2 linked regions of the Homo sapiens genome follow. The protein of the gene in region 1 interacts with the protein of each later gene in a biochemical or structural test. Each region holds a gene or a part of one and is shown on either strand. Other genes may lie near its edges.

The links.
Region 2: the proteins of SLIT2 (region 1) and ROBO1 are reported together in a solved structure, tested with the Homo sapiens proteins (one study listed by IntAct).

What each region holds. Positions count from the first base shown.
Region 1 is NC_000004.12:20,590,801-20,598,178, reverse strand, and holds part of SLIT2 (slit homolog 2 protein isoform 1 precursor), read right to left. Parts: intron 2,483-7,378; coding exon 2,345-2,482; intron 1,765-2,344; coding exon 1,524-1,764; intron 1-1,523. UniProt on the Homo sapiens protein: Thought to act as molecular guidance cue in cellular migration, and function appears to be mediated by interaction with roundabout homolog receptors.
Region 2 is NC_000003.12:78,630,670-78,638,047, reverse strand, and holds part of ROBO1 (roundabout homolog 1 isoform a precursor), read left to right. Parts: intron 1-1,939; coding exon 1,940-2,275; intron 2,276-4,005; coding exon 4,006-4,113; intron 4,114-6,742; coding exon 6,743-6,887; intron 6,888-7,378. UniProt on the Homo sapiens protein: Receptor for SLIT1 and SLIT2 that mediates cellular responses to molecular guidance cues in cellular migration, including axonal navigation at the ventral midline of the neural tube and projection of axons to different regions during neuronal development.

The sequences.
Region 1 (7,378 bases):
GGTTTTACTATGGTTTATGTTTTCCTGATGGCTATGAGAAAACGATGCTGAAATTATTCCTTGAAAGGTGACTTGTTCTTAAATTGCTTTGTTGCAAATAAATCCATGAAGAAACTTAAAAAGAACAATAAGAAATCCTCAAGTAAACATGTTGGATGTGCTTAGAACTTTCTTTGCTGCAGATTTTCGCTAAACTGCTCCTTTTGCTCCCGTTATAAGCTTTATTTATAGCATCTGTGAAAAATGACTACATTGTCAAAGATGGATTTTTATATCTCATATTTAAAAACAACAAATTCTTCACAGTTATGCCATGTGTAGGGGGAAATCTTTGTTTTTATCCTGCTCTTTGGCCCATTTTGGCTTTTAAAGGATTAATTAGCTAAGTTAAGACTTAAGCCCCAACATCACTGTGTGGTTCTCATAACAATTTGGTGGGGCAAACACTGGAAGGTAGAGAATCATGCCTTCCAGGATTCTCTTCTTCCTGACTTCAAAAGGATCCCCTGTCCCTCACTAGAGTATCAGGGTAAACCAAAAAAGGGGTGGTGTCTACATGAAACTGGCTAAAGTCATTTGAATTAAAAATATATTAAATGATTTTGCTTATCAGATAAAACAAATATGTAGACATAATTTGCCCCATGTACACTATATTTATTATCTTTAATCTAGTGCAGCTTCTTCCATAGGGATCTGAATGACTTGCTTAAAGGTATACAGTGAGTTGGTGGAAAGACTTAAAATTTGAGTTTGTTAATTTCATGTCAATTCTTCAAAGTTCTGGGTGAAGAGTTAAAAGGTGCTGGTTGGCTGAGCGCAGTGGCTCACGCCTGTAATCCCAGCACTTTGGGAGGCCGAAGTGGGTAGATCACATGAGGTTAGGAGTTCGAGACCATCCTGGCCAACATGGTGAAACCCTGTCTCTATCAAAAATACAAAAAAATTAGCCAGACATAGTGGCACATGCTTGTCGTCCCAGCTACTCGGGAGGCTGAGGCAGGAGAATCGCTTGAGCCTGGGAGACAGAGGTTGTAGTGAGCTGAGATCACGCCACTGAACTCCAGCCTGGGCGACAGAGCAAGACTCTGTCTCAAAAAAAAAAAAAAACAACAAAACAAAAAAAAAGGTGCTGGTGGTTGAATCCAGGTGTTCTTTCTCGCCTGCACCCTTCCTAGCTGCAGATTTCCTAAGAAAAGCCTCCCCCATGCAGAGGCTGAACTGCAGAGCCATAAAAGCAAATGAATCAAATGTTTTTGTCTGAGCACAAAACAAAGAGACATATTTTTTTTTTTACTGTCTGCTTATCAAGTAATGAATAAAAATATTTGTTTTTCATTTTGTCTTGAAAATACAAATGTTGAAGAGAAAAATTACTAACGCTGTCCACACAAGGAGCATTTTCTGTTTTTAACTGTCTATTTAAGACATACTATCAATCATTCAGAAGCTACCACAAATGTTTATTCTCTGAAGCTGAATTTTAAGATCCGATCATCTCTCCATAGAGAGAGATCTCTTACCTGAAGTGTTATGTTCGTCTGAGGCCGAACCTTGGCTGAAGGAATCTGAAGATAAGACTCTTTGTTTATAAAATTCACACTAACCAATTTTTCACACTTTTCTCCCTGATAGCCAGGCAAACACTGACATATTGGCTCATTTATTCTGACGATACACTGAGCTCCATTCTGACAATCAAAATTATCACAGGGGCTGGTACGAGGGAGGACCATGGGTGGAGAAAACTCACAGAACAAGCCACTGAAGAATAAGGAGAAAAAAAAATTAGTTAATACGATTTTACTTAATTGCCAATCTGAATTGAGAGCTGTATAACATAACTGTATATTATATATGTGCACTTCCTTGTTTTTCCAGTTTTCAAGTATTCTTAACTATTAAACAAAATCATCACTGTGCTGTACAACAGATATTCCAAACTTACTCATCCTGTCTAAATGACATTTTGTACCCTTTGACCAACATCTCCCCAAACACCATCCCTCTGTCCTCCTCTTTGGTAACCCTCATTCTACTCTTTGCTTCTGTAAGTTCTACGTTTTTTGTCTTAAAATTTTTTTATTTTAATTTTTGTGGGTACCTAGTAAGTGTATATATTTATGGGGTAAATGAGGTATTTTGATACAGGCATGTAATGCATAATAATCACATCATGTTAAATGGGGTATCCATCCCCTCAAGTATTTATCCTTGTGTTACAAACAATCCAGTTATACTCTTTTAGTTATTTTAAAATGTACGATTACACTATTACTGACTATAGTCACCCTGTTGTGCTAGGTCTTATTGAACACTAGGTCTTATTCATTTCTGCTTTTACCTGTAACCTTCGGGGCATATGCACGTATAGCCGTTCACTGCATCTGTGCAGTGGGCTCCGTTTTTACACTTGTTGTCTTGGCAGTCGTCAAAATCGATGTCGCAGTGTTCACCTACGTACCCTGGTGTGCAGTCACATCTGTTGGAACAAGCAGGTAATGGTTTCAAACCCAACTGAGCCAAAATAAGTAAACAATGCATTTTATCTAGACACAATGGCACCATCTTTAAAATACTTATTTAGAATAGGCTCATAGAGCCCCCACATTAATGGATACCTAGAAAATCGAACTGTTCTGCAGTATGTTCCATGTTCTATCACTGTGATCTACCAGAGAAATAGTGATTTTATCTCCTTGATAGTGAACATCCACAGCCCAAATAAGAACAGGGTAATTGTAGCAGGGTCACTCCCTCCCACCCACTCTCCTCCCTCTTCCTTCCTTTCTTTTTCCCCATTTTGTTTGCTTACAGTGCCCTATATTTTCAGTTTGGCCTAATCCATTTGATCATTGAGATTATAAAAGTGCTATGTTGTAAAATTTACTGGAAATATTAAACATATTTAAAAAAAGATTAACATTTTTAATTTTACAATAGAGACTAGATACATCAGAACAAGGTATTATTTTAAGAAAAGCAAATATATTAATATTAAATACCCTAATTCACAATGAATCCAGATACTCATTATAGAAGAACGGGACTGACATAATGGGTTAGGATAGAAGAACTGATAGAAAATTCACGGGGCCAATCCCACGGACAGTTTTCAGCCTGTTCACCATGGTGGTAAAGGGTCTTGGCTGCATTGATGGTGAGGAACCAGGAGTAATAATACAGCTGACATTCACTGAGCACTTCCTCTGGCCCTGCTCTAACCATGTGGCTTCTATGGATTCACTGAATCCTCTCCACAGTCCTGTGATATTCGTGGTATTACTTTGCCCACTCTACAGGTGAGGAGACTAAGGAACAAAGAGGTGAAGTACTTTGCCCCCAAACACTCAACTTCTAAGTGCCACAGCCAGGAATCAAACTCAAGCAATCTAACAAGAAAGCTTGTATTTCTAACCACTGCACTATGCTGTTGAATAATTAATTCCACAGGCTCCCTTTAAACCTGTACTTCTCTAGTGCTGACCACTGGGATCTCTAGTTATGATACCAAGGATGCAGGATTTTATAGCTGCATGAAGAAAGGCAGTGTGGCACGTGCAGCAGTTTTCAAACTGCACTGTGGACCTATAGGGGACCATAGAATCCCTACAGGTATGGCCATCTATGAGGAGGGGTCTTCTGGAAGCCTCCCTCTACCCTCCACCTTTTCCTCAACACTCTCCTGTTGTGATTTATTAGGCTTACACATTGGCTTCCAAGAGTGTTTTTGATTTGAGTTTAAGAGAGGGTTCACTGACTTTATATATATATATACACACACATACACATACATATATACATACATATACACATAACTGCAAAGCCTGAATTCTGCAGAGCTAGGTCATAGTTTTCTCATATATACACACACATATATATATATACACACATATACATACACACATACATATGCGTGTATGTATATGTATATGTATATACACATGTACATACATATACATATATACACACATACATACATATGTATATACACACATGTACATACATATATACACACATACATATGTATGTGTGTATATATGTATATATATGCACATGTGTATATATATGTGTATATATGAGAAAAGTATAACTTAGCTCTGCAGAATTCAGGCTTTGCAGAATATGTACATATGTACATATATACACATATATACACACATACATATGTATGTGTGTGTATATGTATGTACATGTGTATATACATATACATACACACATATGTATTGTGTATGTAGCAGTGTATGTATATATGTGTATATATATGTGTGTATATATGAGAAAACTATAACTTAGCTCTGCAGAATTCAGGCTTTGCAGAATTCAGGTTTTACAGAACTGTGTTTGTACCCCGGCTTCATTCTTAATTGTATGTTATCAACTTTATTTTATTCTAGATTTACTGAGGTATAATTGAAAAATAAAATCTTTATATTTTAAAGATGTACATGGTAATGTTTTATACATACATACATTGTGAAATAATTACCACAGTCAAGCTAATTAACATATCCATCACCTCCCATAGTTACCCTTTTCCTTTTGTGGTGAAAATATTTCAGATCTGCTCTCTGAGCAAATTTCAAGTATATAATACAGTATGAACTATAGTGACCATGCTGTGATATTAGATCTCTAGAACTTATTATTCATCTTGTAACTGAAAATTTGTGCCACTGACCAACATCTTCCCATTTTCCCCACCCCAATTCCTGGTAACCACTCTTGTACTCTCTTTTTCTATAAGTTTGACTTTTTAAAATTCCACATATAGGTGAGATCATCCGGTATTTGTCTTACTATGTCTGGCCTATTTCACTTAGCATAAAGTATATATAATACTGACTAAATTACTTAATCTCTGTAAGTGTTATTTTCCTCATCTTTAACACGTATATAATTCCACCTCACAGGTTTATTTAAAGATTAAACGCATCCATCTGTAAATTAATTAGTATAGTTTTTATATATAATGCACGTTCTATAAATGGCTGGTTTTTAAAATAATTCTCTATATAGTCTTTATAATTCTATAAAAGCTTTTATGGTTTAGTCTGTATTAATTATCCACTTTTCTATTTCAAAGCTATTAGGATTTGAAGTAAGGATAATTAAAAACACCCAAGTGAATGTGGCATTACTGAATGCCTAAGGTTTTGTCTGAAAATGCTAAATCAGGATTTGAGAGTTGCTGGAGAGCGGAAGAATTAAAACAAATGGGAGTATATAGCCTCTAAGAGTAGCAAACAGACTTTCAGCTCTGCATGTATGAATTAAGAAATAAAATGAGCTCACTGCATAAGCATGCTTGCTTTGCAGCCAGTTGGTTTTAATGCTAAATCATAGCAAAGCAAAGTAAACAACAAGTCTGAAGTTAAATAGACTCTAAGTGGCCATATACATTCTCAAAGAGATGGACAAGGCCCGAGAAGAGAACTTCCATCAATGTTAATGTGAGCAGAGCTGTTGAAGTGCCAAGCATTAAAAAAAAGAAGAAATGCTTTGAAACACTCTGAATTATTTATCTGAAAAAAGAAATCAAAGTGAAAGATAAGAGAACAACACATCCACCATAGCGGCTGTCTAAGAGCTATTTTATATTCCCTTCTCTCCAAATACTATTTTTCAAGACCATTAGAGCTTGGAGTTACATTATGTCCAACATTTTTGTCTTTCTTTTGCTCCTCAGACTGAGTTTCAAAACAGAAAGAAAAATTTAAATAAGAATTCCTGAGTTTGTATTATCAATAAAACCTATCACATTCCTTCAACTCTATTATCTGACAAGGAGAGAGGAAGAAGCAAAGAATATAAAATACACTGTTTAGAAGCCCAAAGCTGGCTATGTAAGATGCAGGTTTGAAAATACTGCTTATGGCATATCATAGTCTAAAAATATCTCAAAGCAATTTGGGAGATTTATGAGGTATATAATAAAGCAATAAAAGTAAAACCAGCTCTGTTAGCTTAGTAATAAGAAAATGAAGTTGAAGTAGCATAGCATAACTTGTCTAAACAACATTTGTCAGTAGAGATTTTCTTTAGCAGCTTCACAGAATTTGATTTTTACGTCTATTTTCTTTCCACAGCTACCTTTCCCACAATGTCGGGAGTAACAGCACACACACTGACCTAACCGTTTTCTGCTAAACTACCTACATACAGCTATGAAACGAGCTTACAAACTATAATGGAAAACAGTGGGTTTCCAAATGAGTTAGTCCATAATGCAGCAAAATGCACTTTTAAGAGTGTCTAATTTATTTGATGGCGAGAGGAGATATTTAATTAAGGATTAGTCTTTTTGCAGACAAACTCACTTTCTAATAGTTTCAGTTAAGTCTTACTAATACTTTATCTTATACTTACAATACACAAAGTACTGTGACATCTGTTCAGCAGATGAGCAGTTCTGGAAAACTTTCCTTACTAGCTAATTTCTCTAAGAAATGATATTTATTATGTAAGTGATGTGTTTTCAATTTGCCAAATTAAATTGTGAGCGCATCATTGATATGAAGACTAAAAACAACTTACCTACAGTGTTTGGTTGAATAAAATATAATGTAAAGTTTTGTATAAAGTGAAAATGGAATAACACTGGGTTTTTGCCTAGGGTTGTAAACTAAAATATAATGCAAAATAGAATCAAATTTATTCTTTCCTTTTTCAAAAAGACATTGTAGGGAATTAGCAGGTGCTACAACTGTACCTACATATTCTACATTTTTGGATTTTAAACCAAATTAAAGCAAAAGCACATTGTCAAAAGAAAGCTTGAGAATAAATATTTAATTTAGATTGATATTTGAAAAGCAGTGGGGATCTGGCGATTCTGACCCCACTCTCCCACCCGACTTAAAATATCTGATGATCTGTTCGGTAAGTACAAATATCTTAGCAATCCAGCTCAAATTCCATCTTCTCTTATAAAATTCATCCCGACCTGTGTAATTGTTAATTCCCTGAATTCTATGGCAATTGAGCTTGGGTCATTTCTCTAAGAAGATGAATTAAGTGAAGGTGAATAGCTATAAAGGACTACAAAATCATAAGATGGTATTATTACCATGTGCTGTGGCCATGGCAGGCACTCAATAAATATTGCTTGAAGGAACAGATAATGCTATTTGCTAGCTGTCTGATGAAAGCACAGCTCAACCCCTGTACCCGACTGTGTAATTCCTAAGAATCCAGCCTATTTGCTACACAATACCAACTGTAATGTTAATAAACTATAAAATTTCTTATAGGTAACACATAGTAGAAAAATCACCCAACTGGTAAGTATAAATCCTAGCTCTAGCTCTGCCAATAAATAACCTTAAGATCTCTGGACAGTCAACTAACCTCTCCGGGCCATGGTTTCCTCATGTTT
Region 2 (7,378 bases), on another chromosome or scaffold:
CTGCAAGATTTAAAGGAATAAAAATTACCAAAGATTTCTTACCAAACAACCCCTCCCCCCCCCAAAAAAAAACCCAATATTGCCAATATAGGAAATATTAAAATTATTGTATGGAATCTCTATGATGATAGAAGTAAAATAACCTGTGGAATTACGGAAAGGCGAGAGAGAAGTTGGATTTAAGTAAAGATGCTATGCACTATAAAGAACAAATCATAGAGCAGTCTGCATGTCTGCCCTTAAAGCGAATCCTGAGTGTCCACTGGACGTGGATGTGACGTATCCATGTGACCAAGTCTCTGTCCTCTAGAGGCCCATATTCTGAATGTCTAGACAGATAGATACTCATGTAATCATAAGTACAAGAAAAACTGGGTTGAGACCTATAGGAGAGAAAAAATGGCGATACCCATTTAATAGGTAGAGCTGTGTTGTCCAATATGGTAGCCATTGGCAACAGATGGCTATTTACATTGAATTTAATAAAATATAGTTTAAAACTCAGTCCCTCTTTTGCACTAGCTACATTTCTAGTGCTCAGTGGCCACGTGTGACTGGTGGCTGCTGTATCAGACAAAGTGGAGTAGACCATGTCCAATATCTCCAAAGTTCTGTTGGATAACACAAATATAGACAGATTGGCGAAACAAAATGAGAATGCAAAAACCACATGATCTTTATAGTATTTCTTAACCACTGTTAAACAAAACTAGAAATTAGAAATAAGAATCACAAAGTCCAGATGAATCAAATATTTCTGTTCCCTGACGGTTCATGGTTGAAATGCAGAATAGTTGAATTCAGTAGGATAGAGAAATTACACATTTTTCTTAAGATTATATTCACATTTACATCTTTAGTAACAAACATGTTAATTTATAATTTTTAAACATATCCAGTTAAAAACCAATGCTACAGGTGACTTGTTAATGTTGGTACCACTTTTGGACAACATGCATAAAATAATGACATTTTTACCATTGTAATTTAACTAATTTTTCTATTTAAAATCTATTTTAATTTAAAAATATGATTTCAGTTCTTCCTACCATTTTAATATTTTCAACTGCAGGCCATATATATATATATATATATATATATATATATATATAAAATGAATGTATATATTATGTATGTATATTCAGTTATTTAATGTCCAAATATTTCAATAGAGAGAAAACTGGAGTGGAAATGAGATATTAGATATTTAAGTATTATTTCAGGCTTATTTGATTCAATTACCCAGGTTACTATGATTCCTTTTGTTATTATTATTATTGTCATTTTATATTTCTTTGGTTGTCATTATGAAACCATGAGAAAATAATTATATAGCATGTTTTCCGGATAATGATTATCCAACAGGACTACAACAAGAACTAATAGAATTCTCCTTAGTACCATTTACTATCATTTTACCCCTGTTCCCATATCTTTTAAATGTAGGTATTTTATAAAATACCAAAATCTCAAGTTCTTTGATCTATGAATAGTTTTTTCCTTTGGATTTTTCATTTATGTGCTTTGTCTGTTGCTTCAGCAGCTAACCAGTAGCTTCAAATAATTCAGTAACCAAAGACTAGAAAATAAAAAGTTGACACATAAAGATATACATGTATATATTATTTTAGTGGAATTCCTATTAATGAGGTTATTAAATGAAAATTATTTTAAATTGGATGAATTGTTTACTTCAGCACTATCAGAAATTCAAATTTATTTAGTCTCTACAAATTCTGTGTACCCTCTTTTATTTTTTCAATTATTAATTTTCTTTAGAAAGCACATGTGGATATTTGGCCGTTTTTATTGATCTTATTTAAGCCCACTTGTACTTTACATAACGATTTTCTGATGACTCGCAAAGCTACGTAAAAAGAAATTTAAAAGGAATAACCACGCAGAATGATTTTTTCCTTTTCCTCTCCATTGCACATAGCTGATTGTATAGCAAATTATAACAACCAACTGGATAACAAACAAACAAATCTGATGCTCCCTGAGTCAACTGTTTATGGTGATGTGGACCTTAGTAACAAAATCAATGAGATGAAAACCTTCAATAGCCCAAATCTGAAGGATGGGCGTTTTGTCAATCCATCAGGGCAGCCTACTCCTTACGCCACCACTCAGCTCATCCAGTCAAACCTCAGCAACAACATGAACAATGGCAGCGGGGACTCTGGCGAGAAGCACTGGAAACCACTGGGACAGCAGAAACAAGAAGTGGCACCAGTTCAGTACAACATCGTGGAGCAAAACAAGCTGAACAAAGGTGAAGAGGCTTGCATGTATTCCCATCTGTTTCTGTATGATACTCTCAGCACCTCGACTAGATGTTGAAACTTGTCTGCGACTAGCAAGTAAAATCTTTTCTTCTGTCGCTGAGATTTTCTTATTTCTTTGGTTTCAAAATTTCCAGTGTCAAAGAGTTAATTAGCACAACAATAACCTTGGAAAATTTATTTTATAATAATATATAAGTATTTTCAAATGGTTTTGAGATTAATTTAAATTTAATAGCAGGTGAGGGATTGGGACGGACAATCTTTTATTCATGAGGCAGATGTACAACTGTCACAATACCTCGCATTTTCAATAAATAGACTATCCCATTCTTTCCACTAGAGGATGGAAGATAATTGCTTCTATGTGGTTATATAAACCAATGGCATTTTTATATCAACCTGAAATAAAATAATTAAATTAAACTTGAACTGGAGAAGTGGTTCAATTTGTTGTATGTCTCCCACCTCGTGTGGTTATTAAGACTGCTACAGTGTATAATTTTAGAACCTAAATTTCCTTGGTTGACCTGATTGAAGTCTGTCCGTATAGAACCTAAAATAAATTGAGTTTAGTATTAACTTGAAGCCGCAGAATAGTATTCTGTGGCCTGAAGGAAATGTTTCTGTATTGTAATGTGTATGAGTTGGAAAAGATAGGTGTTTGGTTTCTTTGTAGTCCTTTAGGCTACTGCTATAATATCATGATTTGCAAAGTTATACCTCTAGGAAAACCAGGATTGCTCTAATGTGAATAGATGGGGGCAATGCATCCCCACCTATTCCAGGTAAAGAATACACTGGAGATAATTGGAGACATAGACATTTTCTTTAGGTTTGGGTTGGGAACATTTTCTTTGAAAATGCGATTTATCACAGTTGAAGATGACAAAAATATAACTTAAAAATTTCATTTAAGTTAATATTATGTTTTAACTCGAGAATGAAGTCAGCTAGGCTTTTCTCAAGTTTAAGAAAGTACTTGATTGGTATAATAACCCAATTTAATAAATATGGATCGAGACTCCTGCATAAGTTCATAACAAAAACTGACAAAGATGAACAGGACAGTTTCTGTAATCATGGAGTTTGCAGTGGTGATTCAAACTATTGTCACATTATTCCTTCATAGTATATTGTTTTACTGTGGACTTCGGAAAGCCCTGAGAGCCTCCGCACAAATATTTCAGAACTCTGATTTATTGTTTATACTGCTTGTAAGCAGATTTGGTATGTCAGACCATAATAAAGAACCTGGAATGCAACTAGACGACAGATTATTACTGACTACATTCCAGTGGCAAGCTTATCATTTGGATTTTCACCTTTGCCTAAGTAAGCAGAAGCATTTCTGGGGCAAATTAAGATATTTGTTTTTTTTAATCATAGATATATTTTTTATTAGATATAACCTTGCTGACAGGTTTCAGTTTTATTTTTATGTATTGTGATTTATTTTTTATGATTTGCAGACATTTTTGTGATTCTTATTAAAATCATATTGATATTATATTATTAAAGTTATTTATAGTTTATATATATTTGGAGTATAAGCCTTTTTATATCCTGACAATCTGAATACAACAATAGAAGAGAAAAAAGGCAAATAAATGGTCCAATTTGTTTCTTTAGTTACTCAGAAATATAGAGAAAGCAGAGATGTGAAATCGCTCATGAAGAGAAAATAAATGTTTATTGTTTTTTCATCTGATATGTCTAGATTATCGAGCAAATGACACAGTTCCTCCAACTATCCCATACAACCAATCATACGACCAGAACACAGGAGGATCCTACAACAGCTCAGACCGGGGCAGTAGTACATCTGGTAAGTAAGATGAACCAAAGAACTTCTCCTTTAAAAAGCTGGTACTTTCCAAGATTACAAATTGAGTGCTAATGGACTGACGTATGTAGGTGACATGTCTAAATCACTGTATGTAATTTGAGTCTCAGGCATGTGTCTTGTCTCTGCAATTTGAGGGACTTTCCACTCACTAAATCATTTTATGTTCTATTTGGCAAAAAGACTAAGTGTCCTATTTTCTTCCTTGTTAATGAGCTTTAGCAAAGCCAGAAGAAACATGTCTGGTTAATCTTTAAAGGCAGTTGAAACTTTTTCCCCGTTGGCCAAAATATAACTAAAAATGTTGCACAGAGTTAACCTGCTAAATATGTTGCCATTTGAAACGAGCCTATAAAAGCACATAATGTTTGAGGACACTTGAGCAGAATCAAAAGCCGGAGAGACAATAACATGAGATTCAGGTACAATAGGAGCCTGTCTCAGTTTATCATCCCTCTACGATCCCTCAGTTCTTGCTCTGAAGCCTCGTAAAGCAACCTCCCAACCTCAGTCTGTAAGTGCCTCCCAAAGCCACATTGAGGCCTCTTCCCTGTGGTCTTCATGCTGTTACAGCTGTTTGCCAGCTGTTTTCCTGATAGGGGCTGCAGATGGGAGCTTGCTGGGTACTTAAGTCCTGTTTTTCTAATTAAAGGCAGTTCGTTATTAGAACTAACATGTGGCACATCACACCACAATGAGAACAAAACCGACTGATCTTGACTCTAGCAATGTTTCTCCAGGAGAGGGTAGAAATGCCACTTCCCAGCAACTGGATTAAAGTTGTTCTTAGGGGCTTTTAGCCAAGAGTCTCCACCCTTCTTCTGTAATGAATATGGCATTTGCATTTTACAGTTTTCCCTTAACTAACACGCTGGTCTGGCATTGTCTAGCCTGTGTTTCTGTTGGAATTAAGGGAGCTTAGAAATGGCCCTTTACCTTTTAGATTTACTCTGATTCTATTATATGTTATTTGTTTGTTTTAACAATTAACATCTTATTAAATGACTTCTTTTTTGAAGCTAAGTCAATCCTGAATTAAGAGAAATATTTCAAGGATCTACTTTTAAGAAAATCATATGAAATATTTTAATATTTGATTATCTTATGCCATTTGATCTTTGAATTTTTAGTCACATAGAGAAAACCATATCTTAATGGGAAAATAAACAATGATTCTAGGTTATTAATCTTTAATTGACCTTCAGCATCCCTCAGCTTAGATACCTAGATCTGGGTGTTCTACTGCTATATATCATTTGATATTCTGTGAATATATGGTAAAAAGATGTAAAGATGCGTGATGGTAATTAGGGAAGAGAACAAAGCAAGTAAATAAGGTATAGGAGAGATCTGTGATAGGCCTCTCCGGACTGATGGAGTTGCTACAGTAGATGTATATCAGGAAATCCAGAGGAAGATGTGGGTTAATGTCTAGTCTACAACACATGCACAGTTATCCCAATGCTGGACACCGGAGTGGTGGACGAGAGAAGTGAGAGACATACACATAGGACTGATAATCGTAGTTTATTAATAACAGCCTGTCCCTAGCCCACGCTTAGTGTGGTAACCTACCAGTACAAGAACATCTGGCTTAACAAACACTGCCATTTGACTGAAAATTCCCAAGTGACAAAAAAATCAAGGCTCATTGAATATGATCAGACCTGATTCATATATTACATGACTTGGAGAAGGATTGGATAGGGTTAAAAAACTAAGGCCAACATAATGCACTGATATAAAGGGAACTTATGAGAAAAATAATCATAGACTCATTGTCTATAATTCACATATGAATCAAAAATATAACATATTGGAAAGGGGATATTTTGTCCCAAAATATTTGTTGACCTAAAGTTTTTGTTAAAATAAATGCTCTCAAATATATAGCCTCTTGTGTTTAAAAAATATGCCAGATCTAAAATGAGAACACTGGAGCACTTGAATGATTGGGCTATGTCAAACTACTAAGAATGTTCAAGCAACATCATTTTACCATAAGCCATCATTGTACAGAAACAGTGGCTGAAAACACTTCTGTCCCTTTTAAAAATCATTTTTCTGCTTCTTTTGTCATTAGTTCTATCAGTTATTCCAGCTATTATTTCATCTGTACTTGCCTTTCTGAAGGGAACTAGTAATTTCATTGTGCCTAAAACATTTCAATGGACAAGTACAAATTATATATATTCAGTGATTTAATGCAACAGTGGAACTCTAATAGATCGTATCTGTATCATATTGTATTTTAAGTTCCAGCAATTAAATAATAGAAAGGCACTCGAGAAAATATATCTACAGCTCATTTGTTTGAGATGATAATCCATAATGCAATTAATTGCTGCAGGAAGATCACTATTAATGATATGACTTGAAACATTCATTCATGGTTTTATTGCTTTTTTGCTATTTATTTTGCAGTTATTCATGGCAGTACCTTGCATGTTCTCTTGTACAAAGTTCTGTTTAAAATTAATGAAAAAGCATGTTTATCTCTGTATATATAAATGAATTATAAAATCATATTTACAAAAAATAATTAACTTGTGACTAATGGAAAAAGTTTAAAGGCCAGAGATCAATGGCTTCTATTTTATTTCCTTTCTAGGGAGTCAGGGGCACAAGAAAGGGGCAAGAACACCCAAGGTACCAAAACAGGGTGGCATGAACTGGGCAGACCTGCTTCCTCCTCCCCCAGCACATCCTCCTCCACACAGCAATAGCGAAGAGTACAACATTTCTGTAGATGAAAGGTAAGAGGAGCATCCAAACAGATGTAAACAGTGTAATATGATTGTTTCAGCCCATTTTCAGCAATTATTATACTAGGTGGTCAAGAGAAGACTGATTCCTAAGGTCCACAAACAGTTGCCTTTAAATAAAATAGTGCTGGTCAGCAGGAAGTAAAAATTCTCCTTGCTGCTTCCAAAAAAGCAATCTGTGCTTTGAAAGATTCTTTTGGAACTTAGAATGGAATATAAAAATGATACATATTAGCTCATGTATCTATCCTGTGTGTGTATACGTAATTTAACATATGGATATATAATTTTGTGATTTTTGAGTATTAGAACTTCTGTGACAGGTCTTGAAATTTTTGAAAGATAATCGTGTGAATTTATACCACAACGATGGGATCCTGAAGGCTATTTGTTCTTAGATATTATCACCTTATGCTGAGAACTCTGTAGAAATGTAAACTTTACTGGATTGTTTCTCCCAAAGACTTAACAAGTATAATAAT